3 separate regions of the Homo sapiens genome follow, and all the other regions are linked to region 3. Evidence: fine-mapped expression QTL. A gene starts in region 3. Each other region holds a variant in brackets. All regions are shown on one strand. Distances are between the middles of the regions. Region 1 overlaps GPR155 (G protein-coupled receptor 155). Region 2 holds the start of LOC124906096 (a long non-coding RNA gene). Region 3 holds the start of GPR155 (G protein-coupled receptor 155).

The links. PIP is the estimated chance that this variant, and not a neighbour inherited with it, causes the effect.
Region 1: its variant is fine-mapped to the expression of GPR155 in whole blood (INTERVAL, PIP 0.97).
Region 2: its variant is fine-mapped to the expression of GPR155 in whole blood (TOPMed, PIP above 0.99).

Annotation. Positions count from the first base shown.
Region 1 is chr2:174,457,113-174,465,296 of GRCh38, forward strand. GPR155 (G protein-coupled receptor 155) reads right to left here. Exons shown (of 16, transcript NM_152529.7): 8 at 4,476-4,560; 9 at 4,290-4,380; 10 at 2,766-2,976. Among named protein-coding and RNA genes, the nearest start is that of GPR155, 26 kb to the right of the region's middle. The variant G/T (reference allele first, on the strand shown) is at 4,418.
Region 2 is chr2:174,519,785-174,527,968 of GRCh38, forward strand. LOC124906097 (a long non-coding RNA gene) reads right to left here. Exons shown (of 3, transcript XR_007087309.1): 3 at 1,439-3,212. LOC124906096 (a long non-coding RNA gene) reads left to right here and starts at 3,633. Exons shown (of 4, transcript XR_007087308.1): 1 at 3,633-3,889. The variant T/C (reference allele first, on the strand shown) is at 5,016.
Region 3 is chr2:174,483,491-174,491,674 of GRCh38, forward strand. GPR155 (G protein-coupled receptor 155) reads right to left here and starts at 3,539. Exons shown (of 16, transcript NM_152529.7): 1 at 3,383-3,539. It overlaps GPR155-DT (GPR155 divergent transcript), which reads left to right and starts at 3,898. Exons shown (of 3, transcript NR_183819.1): 1 at 3,898-3,926; 2 at 4,545-5,424; 3 at 5,518-8,184. RefSeq lists silencers at 3,054-3,236, 3,500-3,679 and enhancers at 3,090-3,159, 6,330-6,429.

The DNA of each region.
Region 1 (8,184 bases), 26 kb before region 3:
ACCAGCCTGGCCAACATGGTGAAAACCCACCTCTACTAAAAATACAAAAATTAGCCAGGCATGGTGGCACACACCTGTAGACCCGGCTACTTGGGAAGCTGAAGAGGGAGGATTACTTGAACCCAGGAGGTGGAAGCTGCAGTGTGCCAAGACTGCTCCACTGCGCTCCAGCCTGAGAGACAGAGAAAGACTTTGTTTCAAAAGAAGAGAAGAGAAAGACTTTGTTTCAAAAGAAGAGAAGAAGAGAAGAGAAGCACCATACAATAAATAAGTTAATATATTTGATTACAAATCAAGACACAAAGAAATCTCAGTCCTGATAGGCTTAGGCAAATACTGAAGTCCTGTCTTAGACTTTTTTTGAGACAGAGTCTTGCTCTGTCACCCAGACTGGAATGCAGTGGCACGATCTCAGCTCACTGCAACCTCTGCCTCCCTGGTTCAAGCGATTCTTCTGCCTCAGCCTCTGGAGTAGCTGGGATTACAGGCACCCGCCACCACACCTAGCTAATTTTTGTATTTTTAGTAGAGATGGTGTTTCACCATGTTAGCCAGGCTGATCTCAAACTCCTGACCTTGTGATCCGCCCACCTCAGCCTCCCAAAGTTCTGGGATTAGAGGTGTGAGCCACCGCACCAGGCCTTGACTTTTTTTTTAAAGACAGGATCACGTCTATTGCCCAGGCTGGATTGCTGTGGCGTGACCATGGCTCACTGCAGCTTCGACCTCCTGGGCTCAAGCAATCCTCCTGCCTCAGCCTCCTGAGTAGCTAGGACTACAGGTGTGTACCACCACATCCAGCTAATTTTTTATTTTTTGTAGAGTCAGGGTCTCACTATGTTGCCCAGGCTGGTCTTGAACTCCTGGGCTCAAGCAATCCTTCCAAAGTGCTGGGGTTACAGGTGTGAGCAACCATACCCAGCTTTGTCCTAGACTTTTAAAAGCCAGATGCAAAAATTCAGGATTGGAGAGAAACTGTTCAGTAATGTACTCGGGGTGGGAGGCAGGTTTTTAGTTGCTCATAAATTCAAGATGAAATCATCAGAATAAGTTAATGCAATGTTAGGCAGAATTAAAAGTTTCTTTTCTAAGTAAGGACAGGAATGATTCTCTTATTCTTCACTCAGTCAACAAGCATTCATCAAATATTGAATGCTCACTGTGTCCTAGGACCATGGTAACTGGAATGTTATATTCAGATCTAAGCATCCCATTTTAAGAGGTACACTGAGAAACTAAAATGAATCCTTGGTGTCTCATGCATCTCAAACTTAGAAGGGTCAAATTGAACTCATTATCTTCCCCTACATATTCTGTTCTCTGTGAATTCTTCTTAGGTAATACCCACAATTATACATTCACTTAAACTAGATTTCTGGAAGTTGTTCTCAGTTTCTCTCTTAGCCCTCACCCAGCTTCTAATCAAGTACCAAACCCTGTCAATACAACTTTGCCTGAGTTTGGCCTCTCCTGTTTATCCAATACCTACTGCCTTAGTATAGGCCCCAAAGACTCAACTCTGCCATTATAGCATGAAGGTAGCCATAGATGATATATAAATGAATGAGCATGGCTATGTTTCAATAAAATTATGGACATGAAATTAAAATTTCATGTAGTTTTTAAGAGTCACGAAGTATTTGTCTTCTTTTAATTTTTCTTCAACCCTTTAAAAATGTAAAAAACATTTTTAGGCTGGGTGCAGTGGCTCACACCTGTAATCCCAGCACATTGGGAGGCCGAGGCGGGTGGATCACCTGAGGTCAGGAGTTCTAGACCAGCCTGACCAATATGGTGAAACCCCATCTCTACTAAAAATACAAAAATTAGCCAGGCGTGGTGGCGTGCGACTGTAGTCTCAGCTACTGGGGAGGCTGAGACAGGCGAATTGCTTGAACCCAGGAGGTAGAGGTTACGGTGAGCCAAGGGTACTGCACTCCACCCTGGGTAACAGAGCGAGACTCTGTGGCAAAAATAAATAAATAAACAAACAAAGAAAAAAAACATTTTTAGCTGGTGGACCATACAAAAACAGGTGGTGGGCCAGATTTGGCCTATGGACTATAGTTTGCCCAAAACTGACTTACATCATTAATCTGGCTTTAAACAGGCCTCCTTTAGTTCATATTATTGATGGTGCTTGCCTGATACAATATTGTTAAATTAACTTATGTATGTGCTTCGTTTCCTAGTTAGGGCCTTCCTTCAGTTGTTACTTTTTTCTATATTCTCAGGTCCAGGGAAGTTTTAGGATTTAACAAAAGTGTATACTCACAATAAGACTTATAAACAAAAATCTAATGAATAATTTTACAAGCAAGTTTGTTGACTATGATTCAAATTCTTCATTTGACAAGCACTCATGATATTCAAACTAGTTCAAGGAAGTTTCCCATAAACAAAACATTTAGGATACATGCTATAAAGGCATGTAGCAGTTTCTTTATATTTAAAGATCAGGCTGGCTCATGCCTGTAATCCCAGCACTGTGGGAGGCCGAGGCGGGTGAATCGCCTGAGCTCAGCAGGTCGAGACCAGCCTGGGCAACATGGCGAAACCCCATCTCTACTAAAAATACAAAAATTAGCAGGGCATGGTGGCAGGCACCTGTAGTCCTAGCTACTCTGGAGGCTCAGGTGGCAGAATCGCTTAAACACAGGAGGCGGAGGTTGCAGTGAGCTGAGATCATGCCACTGCACTCCAGCCGGGATGATAGAGCAAGATTCTGTCTCAAATAAATAAAAATAAAATTAAAAAGATCATACTTGTTTCTGGAATAGAGCTTGTAAAAAGTTCTGGTTCATTTACTGGTGCTGGACTCTCCTCAAAAGCAGTATTTCCAGGCTCCACCACTTTGTGGCTCTGAGACTGATCGAAACCTTCATAGCTTCCTGCTTGGGCAGTCTGGTTCATGCACATGAGGGATATGCCAGCTATCAGGATGCTGCAGAACAGGGTGACTGCTGTGGTGATCATCTGCCGACATGAAAAAAAGATATCAGGCCACTTTTCACAACTTCATCTTGATAATCTTAGGGCACATTTTTTTTTTTTTTTTTTTTTTTTGAGATGGAGTCTTGCTCTGTCGCCCAGGCTGGAGTGCAGTGACACAATCTCGGCTCACTGCAACCTCTTCCTCCCAGGTTCACGCCATTCTCCTGCCTCAGCCTCCCAAGTAGCTGGGAATACAGGCGCCCGCCACCACAACCCAGCTAATTTTTTGTATTTTTTAGTAGAGACAGGGTTTCACCGTGTTAGCCAGGATGGTCTCAATCTTCTGATCTCGTGACCCACCCGCCTCGGCCTCCCAAACTGCTGGGATTACAGGTGTAAGCCACCGCACCCAGCCATCTTAGGGCACGTTTTTGATGGACAATATATCTCCACAGTTTTAAATACTCTAGAACAGTAGCTCTTTTAAAAAGGTAAGTGTATATAAGGAATGTAAGTTACTTGGAGAGAAATTAGGGTTTGCTTGTAATTACACAAGGTTTTAGATGCTTCTTTCATGTATAACAATTGGTTACCAACACAGCCACTGGTTTCCTTTACAAGGAATCTAAATGATTTCTCTCCGATGTTTTCTTTACTCCTGTTTCTGCTCACTTCCACGTATAATTCACGCATACTTCAGTCACTAAGATGTTTTTATGGTAATGATATTAAAAATAATTATAGCTAATATTTATTGAGCACTAACCAGATGCCAAGACTACTCTAAATCTTTTATATGTATAATCTTATTTATTCTCACAAAAACACAATAAAATCCAAAATTGCAAAACAGAAAAAAAGAGTAAGAAATCAAAATTATGTGGAGAGGCTTTTTAAAAACACATCTTTGGACTCCACTCCTAAAGAATTCTGCAGGTCCCACAAGCCACCTACTCTATAGCTTTTCAAGAATATTTTTCCTAGATACGTTTTGTCCTGAAATTTATATTTATGATAGGATTAAGAGTCAAGAATTTGACCTTTATTATTACTGCTAACTTATTAAATGGTTTTAAATTAATCACTCTTTTCTCCAGCACAGGAAACACAATTCCTAAGTGTGATTAAGAACATTCAATAAGTTTTAAGCATTTAGAAATCTTCAGCTAAAAATGGACTTAGACATGTAAAATGTTCATGTTCTAGATGAGACAAAGTGATATAGGATCACCAATCTGATATGCAATAAATTGAAATAGATTTTCAAAGTTAATTTTAATATAAGTCTAGCAAGGCACATAACGAGCTAAAAAGAGACATTCTCAAGAACAGAACTGCCAGTAAACTCTTCCCACCTGTTCTTTTCCATAAAAGAAGGCTGAGTCAATGCTATCTCCATTGTGTTTTCCAGTTATCAAAAGAACACCAACAAGGAGAGCAGGAATTCTGTAATCACAAGTGATATTGGGAGAGAAAAAGAAAG[G/T]ATGAATAGTAACTGTCTATATGGAAAGGTGTAAGCAAACAGAGAACTACCAACTTACCCCCAGCCAGATATTATGATTATTCCAACAGGAATTTGTACCCTCTCTCGCTTTTTCAAAAGAAACAAAGAAATTGCTAGAAGGCCTAAGAATAAGAAGATTGAAAGAGAGACAGTTACTCAACATTGATCAGACTTTATGAAACTTTATTTCCTTTTTATTTTTTTAAACCAAGCTTATTTCATAGTAGTGTGTGGTTTTTGCTTTAGAATTTCTTCCTTCTAAATAAATGCTATCCTCAATATTTTGAAACAAGTTTTAATTCAAAATCATTCATTGTTTCCCTCATATATTGTTTCTTTACTCAATTCTTTTTATCTGTGAGGATTTATTTTATTTTCTCTCTGGTTTTTGTTGTTTGTTTTTTGGATAGGGTCTCACTCTGTTGCCCAGGCTGGAGTGCAGAGGTGTGATCACAGCTCCCTGCAGCCTTGACCTCCAGGGTTCAAGTGATCCTTCCACCTCAGCCTCCTGAGTAGCTGGGACCACAGCCACATGCCACCATGCCTGGCTAAATAAGAATTTTTTTTTGTAGAGACAGAGTCATACTATGTTGCCCTAGCTGGTCTTGAACTCCTGAGCTCAGTGGATCCTCCCACTTCTGCCTCCCAAAGTGCTGGGATTACAGGCATGAGCCACTGCGTCTGGAGAAGTATTTCTCTCCAAAAGCCCTAATCATTTTATTGTTTTGATTCATGTGTTTGGAATCTAAGTATAACTGAAAAACATTTTTTTTTTCTTTAGACAGAGTCTTACTCCGTTGCCCAGGCTGGAGTTCAGTGGCATGATCTTGGTTCACTGCAACCTCTGCCTCCCGGGTTCAAGCAATTTTCATGCCTTAGCCAAACAAGTAGCTGGGATTACAGGTGTGCACCACCATGTCAGGCTAATTTTGTATTTTTAGTAGAGATGGGTTTCACCATGTTGCCCATGCTGGTCTTGAACTGCTGGCCTCAAGTGATCCACCTGCCTTGGCCTCCCAAAGTTCTGGAATTATAGGCATAAGCCATTATGCCCAGCTGAAAAACATTTTTTAATTGAATACAGGACAATTCTAAAAATAAAAACATCCCCCTCTTCTGGTGCTAAGAAGTATGGGCAACTCTTACCCAGGTTATGTTTTTAGAAAACGCCCTAAGTGTAATGATAGCACTTAATACAAACACACTCTGAATTTAATACAAACACAAATGTTTTGAAGTTCTTGAACTTTCCTTACAACTTATATGTAATTATGTATGCAAGTAACATTTTATTTAATAAATTCTACATAGTTATAGGATCTTAGAACTTTAAAGTTGAAAGGGACCTCTATTTTTAAATGAGCACCTTAGATGTGGAAATGAGGGTTTGCCCAAGTCATACAGCCAGCAGAGGGCAGAGTGAGACTAGAAACCTGGCCTTTTGACACAAGCTAAATTCTTTGTTTCTTGAATCAGTTTCTCAAACTCAGATTTGTGGACCCCTAGGGTACCTAAGACATATTCTTCAGGATCTGGGAATTTCTATGAGAAATTTTAAGTCTTTTTTTTTTCTTTCTTTTTTTTTTTTCAGTGGTAGTCAGCTGTGTATCCACCTTGCAACCAACATGCAGTCTCATGATTTCAGAATTTACATTGGGTTTATTTTTATTTTATTTTAGAGATGGGGGTCTCACTTTGTTAACCAGGTTGGGGTACAGTAGCACAATTACTGCTCAAAATTCTGGGCTCAAGGGATCCTCCTGCCTCAGCCTCCTGAGTAGCTGGGACTACAGGCATGTACCAGCATGCAAAGCTAATTTTCAAATTTTTTATAGAGAGAGGGTCTTACTATATTGCCCAGGCTAGTCTCGAACTACTGGCCTCAAGCGATCCTCCTGCCTGGATCTCCCAAAGTGTTGGGATTACAGGCATGAGCCACTGTGCCTGGCCAGAGCTTACAATGGGTTTTATATTAAGTTTGAGTCAAGTGAAGGCCAAATGATATTACAACGCACAGTCCAAATGAAATGGTAGTTTGAAGAAAGAATATCAGTGAGATAACAAGGTCAAAACCCCACATATGGAAGTAAAGGCAAGGCAAAAAAGCCATAGCAGTGAGTTCCATTTTATGTTTCAAGCTATGATTTACATTAGCAAAACAAGATCCTTTGTCATGTTAATTAATGTTGCTAATTAGAATTACTGGGTTTGTAGTTTTGTTTGAATAGAATCTGTGAATTTGCTTTGGTTTTAGAATTGCATATTAGCTGTATATAAAGAATACATACCTAGATTTAAGATTGTCCAGATTAAATAACACTGTGCTAGATTTAATATAAATTGACATTGAGGTCCTTGAGAATTGGTTTTCTTTACCACTTTTCCTCCCTCAATCCATTTGTACACTGTGTAGTTGCAGTGCCAGGGAAACAAGTAACCAATCACAAAAGGGTGCCATCTTTGTTACAGTAGCAAAGGCAGTCTTTAAAATTCTAATGTGCATCACTCCTGCCTTGTGAAAAGAACTATATACAAACAGGCAGAATCCAGCTAGCCCTGGATGTCTCACTGAAGCTGTGAGAGCTCCTGCCTAAATCAGTCTATCTTTTTGGGCCTATTTCTCAGTTTGCAAAATGAAGGATTTAAATTAGACCAGTGTTTCCTAAGGTGTAGAGATTATAGGTGTCACAAAGGTGAAAATGTTTTGACTAGTTATATGTTTATTTTAATGCATATTTGAAAAAAACTAATTAGCAAATGAAACCTGGGATTTTACTGATATAAGGCTCAACTGATTAAAGTTTAAAAAAAGTAAATCAATTTTAAGGAAAAAAGAACAAGTAGTATGCAGATATGGCAAAAATTGTGAGGATGGTATGAAAATGAGTAGAACTAAAAATGATCGAATGGGATGACTTAAAATGACATTTTCAGGTCTAAAATTCTGTCATAGCATAATAACCTGATGGTTAAAGGGCACCTTTATTGGGTTTTGGGAATTCAGAATGACTTCTTTGAATAGACTTTGGCGTGCATGCTTGAAGGGGGTTTCAGAGAGACTTAGGACATTTTAATTGATTGATCTAGTTGCTGCTCTGTTATTCTGATTATAAAGTTAACCTGAGTAAGCCTAGTTATTAGACATCAAGTTGGTCCATCGATATTTTGAAATATAAAGTCTTTAGGCTCTTTTAATTTGACATTGCATAAAAACTCATGCTATGCAAGATGTAGTTGCCTTTAAGAAGCACAAACCATCTTCTGTTTGTGCTGAATTTTTCATTCCATGATTCCTCACCACATTGTTGCTTCACTTCAAAAGGCTGTTGACTGAGATGGGACCTGCTTTTGATCCTGAAGGCATGAAATCAAAGGTCCGTCCTTTGTGGACACTTCCTGACACCTGCCTCCTACCATTCTACTATTTCCTTTCATGTGCCATTTTATAGGTTCAAATTTGTAGGATGAATACAAAACAGCCAGACAGAATTTTTCACAAACATACCAGAATGCATGCATCCACATAAATATTATACTTCAAAATAGCAATGTGCTACAACATTTTGAATATCCTTTTTGGAGCCAGCTGAAATGAGAAACAGTCTTTCTCACTGGGTCCTTTTCTATTTCCATGCCTTTTTATTCCCCTAGTTTTCTTCTTCTCTTATTACCTCTAATTCTTCTATTTAATAACTAACATAGTTCTATTTATTTAGTGCCTACCATGTACCAGACATAAATACTCA
Region 2 (8,184 bases), 36 kb after region 3:
TCTTGTTTACTGTTAACCCTCTGAGTACAAGCCCTCTGAGATTAGTGAGTCTGTCCCATTGGTTCACCCCTGTATTTCCAGGTCCTAGAATGTCCCAGCACATAAGAGGGACTCAATAGCTCTTTGTGGCATAAATGAACTAAACCATTCATAGATTTATTCTCTTTTGAAATAAAAAGGAATACACTGTCACAAAATGTATTCACTGTCACAAAATGCATTTGCCATGTGCCTATTCTCATGGTTTCACTTCTTAGGGTTTTGCCAAAGAATCTGCTCTTAGGGGTTGCATTAGGTTCACTGTCACAAAAATGCATTTGTATTCACAGTCACAAAAATGCATTTACCATGTGCTTATTCTCATGGTTTTACTTCTTAGGGTTTTGCCAAAAAATCTGCTCTTAGGGGTTGCATTAGGTTCCAATGGCTGCTATAACCAAGTGGCACAAAATGAGTAGCTTAAAACAACAGAAATGTATTCTGTCACCATTCAGGAGGCCAGAAGTCCCAAATCAAAGTGTGGGTAAGCTTAGTTCCTCCTAGAAGCTCCGAGGGAGAAACCTCCTCATGCCTCTTTCTTAGCTTTTGGCGACCCGGCAATCCTTGGTGTTCCTTGCCTGGTGGGTGCATTGCTCCAATCTCTGCCTCCGTCTTCACATCACTTGCTTCTCTGTGTGTCTCTGTGCTTGCTGTTTTGACTCTTATAAAGACAATCATTAGATTTACGGTCCACTCTAATCCAGTGAGGTCTCGTCTTGATCCTTAACTAATAACATCAGCAGTAACTCTATTTCTATACAAAGTTGCATTCTGAGGTTCTGCATGGATATGCACTTTTCAGAGACACTACTTGCCCCACGCTAGAGCTTTAGAATACAACACAGAAACTTACAATCTACTCTTGCTGTAATGTAATGCACATACGTTGTTTTTTCGGTGGCCAGCAACCAAGAGCACCCTTCCCAGGAGTACCCCAATTTCCTATTGCATCTTCCAGTTGGAGGACAGTCTTGATCGGAATGTAACTCAATATTTCTCATCTCCTCTCTGCAACCAAGGAGCTACATGTGACCCAAAGTAAGACAACTGGACTCCTGGGATAACTTCTTTTCCCAAATGTATGCTATTTTATGTTTTGGCAAACTTTCAAGAGAGCTTTCATTCCATACTAAATTTCCTTTTTTTTTTAGAGAGAGAAGATCTCTGTCAGTCACTCAGACTGGAGTACAGTGGTGCGATCACCACTCACTGTATGCAGTTTTGAACTCCCTGGCTCAAGCAATCCTCCCACCTTAGCCTCCCAAGTAGCTGGTACTACAGATGTGCACCACCACGCCTGGCTAACTTATTTATTTATTTATCTGTAGAGACACTGTCTCACTATGTTGCCCAGGCTGGTCTCGAATTCCTGGACTCAAGTGATTCTCTTGCCTTGGCCTCCCAAAGTGCTGGGATTACAGGCATGAGCCACTGCACCTGGTCTCACATATTTTTAGTACTATAAATCTGTGAATGCCCAGCAAACATCAAGCAGACTGTACTCTTGGAACTTTTCATCTTGAGTGGAGGCGCATAAGGAATGGGAAAATATTGGAACACATATACTGGAGGAGCAGCACCCAGATAAGATCCTTCAGTTGTTCATGCTGCCTGGACTCCAGGAATTGCCTTCATTCCTGTCTTGTGTCCTGATTTGGCTCTCCAGCCTCCCATCTATCCTGAGTTCCTAGCTAGCACCCTGTTAAAAGTCTCTTTTTGCTTCTGTTAGTCAGAATCCATTTCCATCATTTGCATCCAAAGACATTCAACTATTACACCGAGATCCAAGATTTTTTTCAGCACTGTCGCTGTTTTGCATATTTAGCTCTGAGTTCTGACATGCTGAGTTTACTACTATATGAGATACTACCTTCAAAATGTCAATTTCATCCAAACCCACACATTAGTGCAATTACAAGACAGTACATTAGCATTATTATTAATTTATTTATAACCCAGCTTGTTCCAAAAGGATTTCATTGTGTTAAATTATCCTACAGAGGTATGGCAAGAAAAAAAACATTTAAAATAAGGAACAAAAATGAAACAAAGGAAGAATAAGAGGTAGAAAAGTGAGATGAAGCCACAAGAGAACCTAATCCATAAAAATGGTTACTGCCAAGGCTAGACAATAGGTAGGGGAAAGATGCAGTATCGTGAAAAGGTCTGCAGGCTACAGTTGTTGCCATGGTATTTGGCAACAATATTTTCTATTTTTCATAGTTCCTTCTCAACCTGAATTTCTGTTAAAAGCTTGCAATCTCTCGACATTGAAATGGGACCATGAGATAATTAAGCAGTTGCCAAATGGGAACTAACTGAATAACAGAAAAGAATACATTTGCTTAAAGTCTTTACGTTATTACTTTAAAGATGGTAAAAACCCTGAGATATCTGCTTTAATCTTCATCTCTCTTTCTTTCTCTTTCTTTTGTTTTTTTTGGTTAATATTAGTCAAAACCTGGAAGCTGCAGTGCCTTATTTCAAGTTATGATTTTTTAAATTTTGCTTTTCACAATAGATGGACCTTGAAAAATTTATTCTGTTATCTGTTTTTACAAATTCAAACACTCTAAATGGAAGACAGAAACTATTTAAAAGAAGATTTATAGTCAATCTTTTTGCAAACCAGGCATTACATTTTTACTTATTATTTTAGCGATGTGGGGTTTTCACATGTTATAGAAATGTCAGTTCCCGTCTTGCAGTTTTTATCAAGAAAGCAAAGCTCAGATTTTAAATGCAAATACTGCATAAAGATATTGCTCATACATAGTAACATAGTAAACACAATCATGCTGATCTTCATTATTGTAATGACGATTTTCCCATTTTAATATTTATTGCATTTTTTTTTCTATCAAACCTTTTTCAAAAAGGATCGGAGGCAACTGTGGAATACATCACAAGTGCCACCTAGTGCTTCCTTTGAAAATAATGCTTTTTTTTTTTGGTCTTCAGAAATAGGAACAAAACAAGATGTAGAACACCCATGCTCGTAGGCTGGATCTTGCTTAAGTAGTTCTGCTTCCTAAAAATGAGTGCATTTGTTTTCAGCCAAAACATATGTTGAAAGAAGAATTTGGAAGTGAGTTTCCTTGACTGTGCTCAGACCTCCCAATACTGCTTGGTTTTAATTCTACATAGGTAGACATGGCATTAAGTAAAGGATGCTAAAGAAAGGAAACATAAAATAAGGAATTTCATTAAACAAGAAGTAGCAGTAATTATTTCAAAAAGTATTTTTTCCATCTCCCAGTAGGAGTTGGCATCTTACTAAGTTTGATTTCCATCATCATCATCATCATTATTATTATTTTTTGAGACTGAGTCTCGCTCTGTCACCCAGGCTGGAGTGCAGTTGCGCAATCTTGGCTCACTGCAACCTCCACCTCCCGGGTTTAAGCAATTCTCCCGCCTCAGCCTCCTGAGTAGCTGGGATTACAGGTGCCCACCACCATGCCCGGCTAATTTTTGTATTTTTGTAGGGACGGGGTTTCACCATGTTGGCCAGGCTGGTCTTGAACTCCTGACCTCAGGTGTTCCACCTGCCTCAGCCTCCCAAAGTGCTGGGATTACAGGTGTGAGCCACTGCACCCGGCCCCATCATCATTATGCCCCAAATGACTCCTCTTCCCCATTTTCCCCATCTATAAAGCACTGTGACATCATCATCACCACCACCACCATCAACCACACGCATCAGCTGAGTGCCTATGGTGGTAGGCCTCAGAGCTGGTTGTCAATAAAACACACTCAGGCTTTAGGCTCTGCCTTCAAGGAGCCTAAAATTAACCTGTGAAGAGGAAGAGGAAAAGAAGAAGGAGGAGGACAAGAATGAGGCTGAAAAGTATGTGTACAATGATCAAACAGCAATACTAGATAAAAGCTTTCACCATTTTCCTGGTTCACAGACCAGAAAACTTTGGAACCATCCCCTCTCCTCTATCCAATCCTGGTACTTGGGTCCTATAGCATCCTCCTTTGGAATGCCTTCCTGATTTGTTTTTTCCTTCCCTATTGTGGGTTTACTCCTCCACCTCATACCTGGAAAATGGCAACAGACATACCACTTGGCCTCCTTCCTCTCCTACTGCCAGGCTACCTTGCCTAAAATGCTGCCTTTAACTTTTCATTCTCTTCCTTAAGAACAAGTTGTGGCTCTCTGGTGCTTCTCAGACCACGGGTACACATCTCAGAGCCTAATTTTGAAGATCTTTCCTAATCTACACAGACTTTATTCAATTTGATGAGCCATTACACTGCAACACTAAATTTTTACTCCTAGAGAGCAGGTCTCTCTTTACATTGGAAGCAAGGGGGCACATTATGCTTTCATTTCCTTTTTAAAAAATTATGTTTTTGTTTTGTTTTGTTTTTTCTTTTCTCTTGAGATGGAGTCTCCCTCTGTTGCCCAGACTGCAGTGCAGTGGCACAATCTCAGCTCACTGCAACCTCCACCTCATGGGTTCAAGCAGTTCCCCCACCTCAGTCTCCTGAGTAGCTGAGACCACAGGTGCCCGCCATCATGCCCAGCTAATTTTTGAATTTTTTTAGTAGAGACGGGGTTTCGCCATGTTGGCCAGGATGGTTTCAAACTCCTGACCTCAAGTGATCTGCCCACCTTGGCCTCCCAAAGTGCTGGGATTACAGACGTGAGCCACCACTTCTGGCCAATGGTTTTTTTTTTTTCTTGTGGTATTTCTAGCTGCCTTTTTTTTTTTTTTTGCACCTCTTGTGTCATTTGCCTTTATAATATATTCAACCTTTTTTCAGTTACTTCATTTTATTACTTAAAACCATTCCCCTCCTCCATGTACACTTTTTTCACTGGTGACTTTCCTCCTGCGGCGTCACCTTCTCCTCCAATCTCTACTGGTTACTCTTTCATCTTGCCTCATAGCAAGTCACATTGCAACTTCCCTTTCCTGTTTTTTGGGTTTGTTTCACTGTTTTCTGGATCACTGGTCTTCCCC[T/C]TTCTTCATTTTCTCCTTGTTTTGCTGCAGAATATTTTTAAGCAATTTCCCAAAAATGGGCACATGGGAGGTAATTGCTTCAAGTCCTTGCATGTGTGGAAAAGTGTCTTTATTCCACCTTCACACTTAATTGTGCTTGCCTGGCCACACTATTGCAGTTCATAATCATGTTACCAATAACAGTAGCTATTTCCTCGTTGTGTTTTAGTACCTTTTTGTCTTAGTCCGATTGTGCTGTTATAACAAAATATCATAGACTGGGTAATTTATAAAGAACAGAAATGTACTTTCTCACAGTTCTAAAGGCTGGAAGTCCACAGTCAGGGTGCTGGCAGGTTCAGTTGTCTGGTGAGGGCTGTCCTCTGTTTCCAAGATGACTCTTATTGCTGCATCCTCCAGTGGGAAGGAACGCTGTGTCCTCTCATGGCAGAAGACAGAAGGGCAAGAGAGCTGAAAGCTGCCTGAAGCCTGTTTTATAACGGCCTTCATCCCATTTGTGAGGGAGAAGCCCTCATGGTCTAACCACCTCTTAAAAACCCCACCTCTTAAGAGTATCACATTGACCAACAAGGTTTAATCTAACATCTGAATTTTGGAGGGGACACATTCAAACCATAGCACAGTGTTGCTGATGAGAAGTCCAATGTCAGTCTGACTCTTGTTCTTTGTAACATGGAAGATAAATTGTTCCAATTGCACTGCTGTCAAGTTAAATCCTAACAACCCATTTCCCATTTCTAAAATTGAGACTCACAGGTCACACTGTGCTTTTAGTGCTAACTAATGACATATCAGAGTCTGGCTCTGAAAATACAGAACTTCATAATTTAAAAAAATGTCTAATAAAGAGGTGAAAAAGATATTTCTTCTCCATAGCAACTAGAGAGAGGGAGAGAAAGAGATCGTTTCATAGCTTAAAACTTTGTAAAAGAATCTGATGAGGTAAGATGTTAAATGTGAACTCTCACAAGACATCAGTCTTATTTCCAGTGTGATATAAAGTCTTGCACAAATATTCCCAACTTCTACCCACTTTTTCTGTTTTAAGTAAATTTATCATTGAAATTATTATTGAACAAAGAAGTCCTGTAGATGCTAGAAATTTTAGAAATTGTTGCCATATAGCGTAAGCATGACCTTCAACAACATTAGTAATTCTGGCTCATAGTCTTACTTGTTGGTTTGTTGCCTTGGTGATAATGTAGTTGATGCCTATGTTCCCAGTGATATAAACATTAACAGGGTTTCTCAGTCAAATCAAAAAGAGGATTGGCTTTCTCTCCTTTTTCCTATTTGCATAATGGACAAATAAAAGTCTATTCTGCTAGAGTCTTCAACACAAAAAAAAGTTTAAGGTCTTGTCCTAGTTACATCTCCACAGAGATACCAGTTGCTTCAGCATTGTGACTTCTCAAACTAAGTGTTGGTTTTACAAGATGTTTTATTTAGGATACCTGAGCACTATTCACAACATGGTACCTTTTCAGTATTATTTGCAACATGTATTGTTTAGATGCCCTTAAGGAAACTTTGGAAGGGGGAAGGAATATTTGATATCAGTGTAAAAGGCAAAGGGGGGCCGGGCATGGTGGCTCACGCCTGTAATCCCAGCACTTTGGGAGGCTGAGGCAGGTGGGTCATGAGGTCAGGAGTTCGACACCAGCCTTACCAACATGGTGAAACCCCGTCTCTACTAAAAATACAAAAATTAGCAGGGTGTGGTGGCAGGCACCTGTAACCCCAGCTACTCAGGAGGCTGAGGCAGGAGAATCACTTGAACCCGGGAGGTGGAGGTTGTAGTGAGCAGAGATCACGCCACTGCACTCCAGCCTGGGTGACAGAGCAAGACTCTGTCTCAAAAAAATAAAAAATAAAAAAAAAAAGGCAAAGTGGTAGTTCCCTTAATTTACAAAAATTCAAAACCAAAAACATTTTCTATATTACCGTAGTATTAAATCTTTACTAAATGTATTATTGTATAGAGTAACCAGCTCCACAACATAGACTAGTAGAAAAAAATAATGCTGTGGAAAGAAACCTTTTTCAGGTCCATATGAGCCTTTATATCATCATTGAAAGTGATCTAATAGACAGTAGATAAACAGAATGGAATAGAGTCCAGGCATAGACCCGTACACAGAGGATTACTTAATTTATCACAAATATGCCAATGAAATTCAGTGTGGAAAGGAAGGGCTTTTCAATAAATGGTGTTGGTTCAAAGGATATTTGCATTTGAAAATTGGATAAATGTTATCAAATTATTCCTTAGAAAGCTTATACTAATTTATAGTCTCACCAACTTGATTGAAAAGTGTTCTGTGGTCTATTCATGTAAATGTTCAAAGATGTTTGCAAAGAATGGATATTTTGTTTATTGGGCACAAAGTCCTCTTTCTATGTGTGTGTATAATGCATTGTATTTATTATTCAAGCAACAAGGGTTTATTGAATGCCTCTGTACATGCTAGGTACTGTTCTAGGCCCCAGGGATTTGGCCGAAGGCAAAGTAACCTACTTTCTTGGAGCTTACATTCTTGTAGGGGAAGACAGATAATAAAGAGACAAAAATAATATAGTTTCACATGGTTGTGTAAGTTGTGTGAGGGAAAAACCCATCAGTTTAAGAGGATAGAGGGAGACTGGGGTGAGGGCTGTATTTCAGATCCGAGAGTCAGGGAAGGCTTCTCTGCATGTTGAGAAGGAGGGAGCCACGTGGTCTGAGGGGAAGGCATGTGTCCCAGGCAGAAGCTCAGGGAGTATGTGGGAAAGGGTCAGAGGGAGGCCAGGGTGGCTGGAGAGTGTGGGAGATGCTCAGAGAGGTAGGTAGGCAGGGGCCATATCACACTGGCCTTATTGACCATAGCATGATGTTTAGGCTTTGTTTCAGTGTAATGGGAAAGCATCAGAGGCTCCTCAGTCCTGCTGTGGCATGATCTGATTTACGTTAAGAGATAATTTTGTGCTGTGGGGAAATGAATTGGAAGGGGACAAAAGAAGCAAAAAGACTGAGTTGCGGCCACGGTGACAGTAGCATGGACTAGGTGGTAGCTGGGGAAGTGGTAAAATGTGACCAAGCTTAGTCTGTATCTGGGTGATATAACGAGATGTGCTGATTGTTTGGATGTCAGAAGTGGGGTGGGGCCAAGGGAAAGAGAGGAATCAAAGG
Region 3 (8,184 bases):
TGCCAGGAACACAATGAACATGAGGTCTGGATAACTCTAAAGCTAATCAGCTTTTATTAGTATCTTGAAATTAAAATGACGACAATTGCCAATTTCTTTTTCTTTTTTTTTCAGATGGAGTTTTGTTCTTGTTGCCCAGGCTGGAGTGTAATGGCGTGATTGCGGCTCACCTCAACCTCCGCCTCCCAGGTTCAAGAGATTCTCCTGCCTTAGCCTTCCCGAGTAGCTGGGATTACAGGCATGCACCACCATGCCTGGCTAATTTTGAATTTTTAGTAGAGACGGGGTTTCTCCATGTTGGTCAGGTTCGTCTCAAACTCCCAACCTCAGGTGATCTGCCCGCCTCGGCCTCCCAAAATGCTGGGATTATAGGTGTGAGCCACCACGCCCAGCCAACAATAGCCAATTTCTAAGTGATTATTCTGGGTTTACCATCTAAAGTAGACTGATATAAGGTAGAAAGTAAAAAGCTCATGCTTCCAGAAATTTACAATGCTCAGGTTAAGTCCTCAAACATCTATATCACATTAAAAAGACTTAGATGGCAGCCCAGAGATCACCAACAACTGATAGCTGGCGTGGGTACAAGGGAATTTTCTCTGTGCTACCCTTGTATAAACCGAACCATTTGAAAACCTTATATTTAATCTGGATTAGGACAAGTATTTTCCTACTAGGATTAGATAGCAGTGGTCAATATAGTACATGAAACCTACACTACTCACATACTTGAAGTTTACCAAATAAGCATCAAATTATATCTTGGGAAAGCTACCGGTTGGTACAGATACACATACTTGAAGTAAGGAGCTGGTAAACAATTAAACAAAGGCGTTAAACATTTGGAGCCCTTAAGACGGTGTGTACTTGGAAAGGCAGTGCTAAACAGGAAAGTGATAAATTAATCCAGTCTTCTGTTCACTTTCAAAAGTGCCTAGAGTATTAATAACTCATTCTGCTTATAAGCCCTTACTTGTACAACACGAGCATGTCAAGGCATTCCAATAATATTTTTTAACCAACAGTTTAAACTAGCAGAAGTTCAGTGGAGAGTCAAACAGATTCTGAGCTTTATGGTTTATCAACTCATAAGTTACTTAGTCTTTCTGAACCTTTGTTTCCTCAACTGTAAAATGAGAGTAAAAACCTCCCTATAGGGATCAGTCATAGCAGCTCACGCCTGTAATCCCAGCATTTTGAGAGGCCCAGGCAGGTGGACTGTGTGAGCCCAGGAGTTTCAGACCAGCCTGGCCAACATGGCAAAACCTTAGTCTCTACAAAAAATTAGCTGAGCTTAGTCATGCGTGCCTGTTGTCCCAGCTACCTGGGAGGCTGAGGTGGGAGGATCACCTGAGCCTAGGAGGTCTCTGCAGTGAGCCATGATCACACCACTGCACTCCAGCCTGAGTAAGACCCTGTCTCAAACAAAGACCTCCTTAGAGGGATATTGTGTGGATAGAATATTTTATATACAGCTTATCACAGAGTAGGCCTTCAAAAAACGGCAGCAATTGCTATTAGGAACTGTTGTCTTACTACTAATAATGATAAAAAAGTAAACATGTTAGTTCTTCAAACATAACTGGTAAAAGATCCACCAACTAAAAAAAGAGGGATGGGATGCGTCATAAATTTATCAGTTTTTGTTTTATACCAAACAATTAAGATAAGTTGAATTTAATTTGGTTTGATAGTAAATGGTTAACAGTGAAGGCAGAGCTCTTCATTTTTCTCAGGGTGATGGTCAAATAGTTGTAGCAATGTCCAAGATTAACTTTCAATTCGTTGAAAAATTAAAAAACAAAAAAACAAAACAAAAAAAAGGGCCGGGCGCAGTGGCTCACGCCTGTAATCCCAGCACTCTGGGAGGTCGAGGCGGGCGGATCACCTGAGGTCGGGAGTTGGAGACCAGCCTGGCCAGCATGGTGAAACCCTGTCTCTACTAAAAAGACAAAAATTAGCCGGGCTTGGTGGCAGATGCCTGTAATCCCAGCTACTCGGGAAGCTGAGGCAGGAGAATCTCTTGCACCCGGGAGGCAGAGGTTGCAGTGAGCCGAGATCCTGCCATTGCCCTCCAGCCTGAGCAACAGAGCAAGACTCCGTCTCAAGAAAAAAAAAAAAAAAAAGCAATCTGCCCCTCCCCATGAGGTTTCTTTTAACGTTTCTCAGTATTATAAAAGAAATACCTGCTGAGGTAAAGTCAAAATAATCAAAATGACTTTAAAAGTTTCATTTCATCCTAATCTTTTTTAAACGGGAAGATAATATGCTTTCTAAAGCATATTTTAAAATGAACAGGAACCACAGCAAGGGAAGTTTTAAAAAAAAAATTACATCCAGCCTTTTTATCTATAAAAACAAAGCTTGTTACAGAACAAACACGTTCACAGTAAAAGACCACTCGCTGAGGCACGAACTGAAGAAATGCTACTGTACTTACAAACCGCTTCTAGCCACATCACATTTGGCTTAGATCACATAAACGAACCACTGATACTGTAAATAACTGCTATTAAGTGAAAATGCGGGGGGAAGGCGAGGGTTGACTAACTTCATAGAGAAAGCTTTAAACTCTCAGGCTATTTCTCAAACATCCAACATCCTTTATCCCGTGGGATAAGTGTAATACAGTGTGGTACTATTAGAGCACTCTTCAACATTAATAGTCGCACCATTCACCCACTCCTACCTACTTGCAGGGCGCCAAATGTCCTCCCTAGAGACCCAGGGTAGGGAGCGCTGAGCACTGCCTCCTTGCCTCGTCTGCAGGGACAGACTGTGGCCCTCCAAGATAAGGGGCGCAGAGAGTTCCTAACCGAATAGGCTGCTCGGAGAGCAGCTGCCAGCCAACCCCTGGGAAGGCAGCTGTGGAAGTGGAAAGGCAGCCAGGGGTCTTTGCCTGGCGTAAGAAAAAGGTGGTCGCTAGTCTTCCCAGGGCACGGGAGTCACAACGTCATGGTAACTAACATACCCCAAAAACGGGTAAGGGAGAAAATTTGGCGCAGTGCTCCAGGTGCCTGGGCAGAAGCCTTCGGAAGGGCCAGATACTGAGGGTACCCTCGGGATAAAGGGAAGAGTCTAAGAAAGACAGGGTGGACGCCCGTGCAGTGAGGAGCTTCCCAAACTAGGGATGGCAGTTCTGTCTCCGGAGGGGACGAGACACCCCCTCCCCCGCGCGAGCCTTCCCGGGTGATCTCACACGTTCCACAGGCAGGCGCTGCGGGGCAGAGACAGCAGGTCCAGACAACGGGCCGCGGGGCCAGGGCGCAGAGGGTCGGCGGCTGCCCACGTGCCCAGGCCTGAGGGGCAGAGGCAGGGGTACCCCGTGCCCGCAAGGGAGAACCAGGACCCAGCAGGTCCGCGCTCCAGGGGCCCCTCTCACCTGCTTCGTCTGCAACCTTGGAGTGGCGAGGAGAAGGGAGCTGGTGCTCGCAGGGTGCCAAGCAGGGAGAAGACCACCGTCATCTCCCGCCCCCAGCCCTCTTCGCCGAGCGCAACCGGGTGCCAGCTGCAGCAGCTTAGGCACGTTCCGATAAAGTAAGGTGGGGTAAGCCGATGCGGCCCTGTCAGCTCAGCCCCTCGCCGGCCGCGAGGCCCCGCCCCCGCCCCGCCTTCAGGCCCCGCTCCCTCCCAGCCCCGCCTTCAGACCCCGCCCCCAGCCCCGAACTTCCAGCAAGACGGGCCGCTTCCCGCCCTCGAGCCCCGCCCATTTCCAGGAGCCTTGAGCCCAGAGTCTCCGTCCCGCCCTCAGGCCCCACCCACAGCCTCGGGCCTCCGAGCCACACGTTCCCCAACCCCGCCTTCAGTCCCCGCCCCCTCCTCCAGCCTCGGAGCCCCAGGGTACCCGGCCCCGCCCTGCCGGCTGGGAGCCTCCCAGCCGCGATCCTCCGGGGCGGGACTTCCGGCTTCCCTGCTCCCACAAAATGGTAGCCGCCGTGGGGGATGTCCAGTTTTTTTTCCTCTTCCCAAGTACAGACGCAGAGCAGACTTGTCTTTCCGCTTAACCTCAACCTCGTGTGATCTGCCAGTTTCGCTCCCGGTTAGCCCAGGACTTTTTATAGCATAGAGTTTTAAAGCAAGGGCTTAGAATCAGACCTGGGTCAAAATCCTGCCTTCCACCTTCACCAAGGCAGTGTGACCTTGACGTTCCTACATAAGAGATTAAAATGTAAACCCTTAGCCCTGAGCTTGTTTTAGAATCTGGGCCCCGTCCATGACTGCTTCTATTCTATTGCGGTACGGGGGTGGGGTGGGGGTGGGGAACTACATGCATGTCCACTCAGTATACTGAAACTGGTTACATTGATGGAAAACTTCCAAAGCTTCTTGAAATAAAGGTATTGAAACTATCCTCACAGGGTTTATAAGAATTCTGGACAAAAATATAATTAAGCATTAATCAGGCTACACTTTGACCCACTTCCTTGTAACCCGAAAGTCGGGTAGAGCTAGATAGTACATTTGTATCCCGTTGTCCCTATAGATAGGCTTTCTGATGTTAAGAGTCGTAAGGCTTTTTAAGAATTGCTTAAAATGTTTTTCAGACGCCAAATTCCAGCGAAACAGCTGATGCCAGCCAGCTTGAAGACCCCTGCCACAGAAGAAGGGAATCAGCATGAGAATACAGCTTCTTCATCTCGCTGTCCCATGACTTCGCCCTGTACTCTTCAGCCAATTAATGATCTCCACACTTGGGACCACTCTAAAACCCTTAAGAACCTGAGACTCAAAGTCCTCCTGGAGACGAATTTGAGGTTTCCTCCTATCTGTGTTTGGTGGCCCTATGATTAAACCTCTTTCTCTTCTGCAACCTGGTGTCCCAGTGTATTAACTTGCCATGGGCATCAGACAACAAACCTATATATAGTATCCCAAATATGGTGCTCCACTTTGAAACCTGAAGAAATCCTGCAATTGAGTTAGCCTTTTGAAATAAAAATTATTTCAAATTTTAAAATATTTATATATGTTTCCACTTAAGATATCTACAAGCATTTGTTTACAACCTTTTATCTTGCTTTGCATCTTAAACATTTCTGTATGGCAATTTCCGTGTCTTCCTATCATCTCGGCCATCTTAGTGCAAAGATACAAAATTGTGTGGCTTATTAAGAAAAATTACAGTAAGCTAAGGGTAGGTTAAAGGATCTGAAACTTAGCAGGAAAAATGAGCAGAAATTAAAGCTATAAAAGGCATGGATCCTGCTCCAGTTCTCTTTGCTTCTCCTTTGTTCTCTGTCTTCCTCACTTTTAACTGCCTTCTTTGTTTCCCTTGAACCTGACTACTTAAAAAAAAAATTGAAGATCTAAATTATCTCAAGGCTAAAAGGATTTTTGTTTAGGAAGTATGAAGATTAATTCAATTAAATAAATACTTATTGAGCATTGACTATCAGGGGAATACTGGAAGATAGGCCTGCAGAGGTAAGTTACGGTCAACCTGTAGGAGGTTCCTTGGGTTAGTTTGAACCTTATCCTTTGGCCACAGTAAAACATGTAACTTTTCTTTCCCCACAGGAACATGTCAGAATGATCACACTATTTGTGGGTGTGTAATCTGGAAGCTGTACCATGATTAGTTGAAAGAGAGACTGAAGGCAAGAAAAACAGTGTGGTGACTTGGAGAAGAACCAAGACATAAGGAAATGAAGACCTACTCTTGGGTGATGACAGTAAAAATAATGGAATAGGCCTGAGAGACAGGAAAAGGGAGAACTGATGAGACTCAGTTACTGATAGGGCTAAAGAGGAGGAAGGACAGGGCAAGGTGGCTCACGCCTGTAATCCCAGCACTTTGGGAGGCAAGGCAGGAAGATCACTTGAGCCCAGGAATTCAAGACCAGCCTGAGCAACATGACAAAACCCCATCTCTACAAAAAATACAAAAATTAGGCTGGGCGCAGTGGCCCAGGCCTGTAATCCCAGCACTTTGGGAGGCCGAGGTGGGTGGATCACCTGAGGTCAGGAGTTCGAGACCAGCCTGGCCAACATGGTGAAACCCCATCTCTACTAAAAATACAAAAATTAGCCGGGCGTGGTGGTGTGCGCCTGTAATCCCAGCTACTTGGGAGGCTGAGACAGGAGAATCGCTTGAACCCGGGAGGCAGAGGTTGCAGTGAGCTGAGATCGTGCCATTGCACTCCAGCCTGGTGACAGAGCAAAACTTGGTCTTTAAAAAAAAAAAAAATTAGCGGGGTGTGGTGGCACACACCTGTGGTTCCAGCAACCCAGGCAGCTGAGATGAGAAGATTGCTTGAGCCCAGGAGGCGAAGGCTGCAGTGAGCCAAGATCGCACCACTGCACTCCACCCAGAGCAACAGAGTGAGACCCTGTCTGAAAACGACAAAAAAAAAAGAGAGAGAGAGAGAAGGAAGGATTTAACAAGCTTATGTATTTCCTCATCCATTAAAATAAAGAAAAGAAATTGAGCTAGAGAGCTTCTAGTATCCTGTCCAGCCATAAAATTTCGTTGTTTTCTATTATTCTGTTACCTGAAAATGAAAGGAAGAACTATTTCAGTGGGAGAAGCAGTTTCAAGGAGAAAATAATGAATGTGGTTTTAGACCTCAAATCTAAAACCTTGAGAAATTTTCTAGTTCAGTTTTCTCTCTTGAAGTTATCATCCTCTCCATCTGAGACTCTAGGAGATTAAGCAGTTGGTCTAAGAACACTCAACTAGTCCATGACAGAGAATGAGAATAAAAGCCCCCCCGTCCTGTAAACAAACTTCTCATAAAGGCATCAGCACATGTATGTAGAGATTTCCGGTAGACCCCTAGGGAGAAAACAGAAAAGAGAGAGAAAGAGCAGAAATAAAGATATGGTTTGAGAAGACATCCGTACAGAATTGATGAAGTTTCTTGTGGAAACCTCATTGGTGAGGTTTCCTTCCACAGAGCAGCTTGTGGAAGGAAACTCTAAGAACAAAATGTAAACAAAGATGAAAGACTTCATTAAAAAGTCACCCTCAGAGAAGTAGTTACCAATGAACGCCACGAGAAACTAACTTAATTCCACTGCCATATCTGCTAATCATTCTGTGAGATGCTGACTTATTCTATACTATTAACTGGAAAAAATGAAGAAAAGCTAAAAGTAATGCAGAATAATGGAGGGAAAACTGTAAATTAATCATAACTTTCATTTACAAATAAGTGGGACCTATAAACTTCAAGCACACTGATATCCCGATTTCCCTCAAGTCCCGCTGATCAAAATTGACAGGAGAAACAAACCAAATGGTTTGATACAATGACAAAGGTCATGTAGGATATATGTTGAGGCAATATGATGTACATGTGGATTCCTGGTGAATTTTATCTTTTCCAAAATGAAGTACTTCTAATGTTTCTTTCTATGAAAGTAATAACAATGATAACATATTCAGATAATACAGAAAGGAATGAAGAAAGTGAAAATCATACCTATGGATAACTTCTTTAATATTATACCATATATGTATCATTTTATGCAAATATAGATTATTTAAGAAAAATAGGATTATACATATGATTTTCATACACATGATTTTAGTCACTTCTCATTTAGTAATACCTTTTTAATCCATAAACAATTTATTCATATAGATAGATTTATATCATTTTTAATGCCTATTAAATACTCCCTAGCGAAATTTTGAGGATGATCTTCTTCGAAAAAGTGGAAACTGGGCCATCTATAAAGTCTAATCAAAGTTGAGTAAAGCATAGAAAAATAAAAGAGAGTGACTTAAAATGTGCTGTTTGAACATGTCTAGTACGATGCCAGATTTTGTTTAAAAACTTTTAGTTTCTTTAAAACTCCCCTTCCCCTTCCCAATAGCATCATTTTCTCTTTAGGGATTCATGTTTCCAGAGAAGTTGACTTCACTCTCCCTTCAGAGATGATGTAACTAATGTAGGCTGTCCAATCAGTGTATTTCATCCCTTTGCACTTAATGATTAGTCAGGGTAGGCACTGATCCTGAAGTAGCTCAGCTGAATAATTTTCAGGACTTTTGCAGAGAATGCTGATCTTCTCTTTCTTGCTAGACAAGAGGAAGATGCCGACAGCCATTTTAGAACCATAAGAGAAGCCAGTCTTAGAATGGTGCAGAGACCAAGGTAGCCACAGCAGAGAGAAGGAAATAAACAGGGACCTTGATGACATATTGAGTTGTGGGGTCAAGCCCCACCTAAAGCAGCC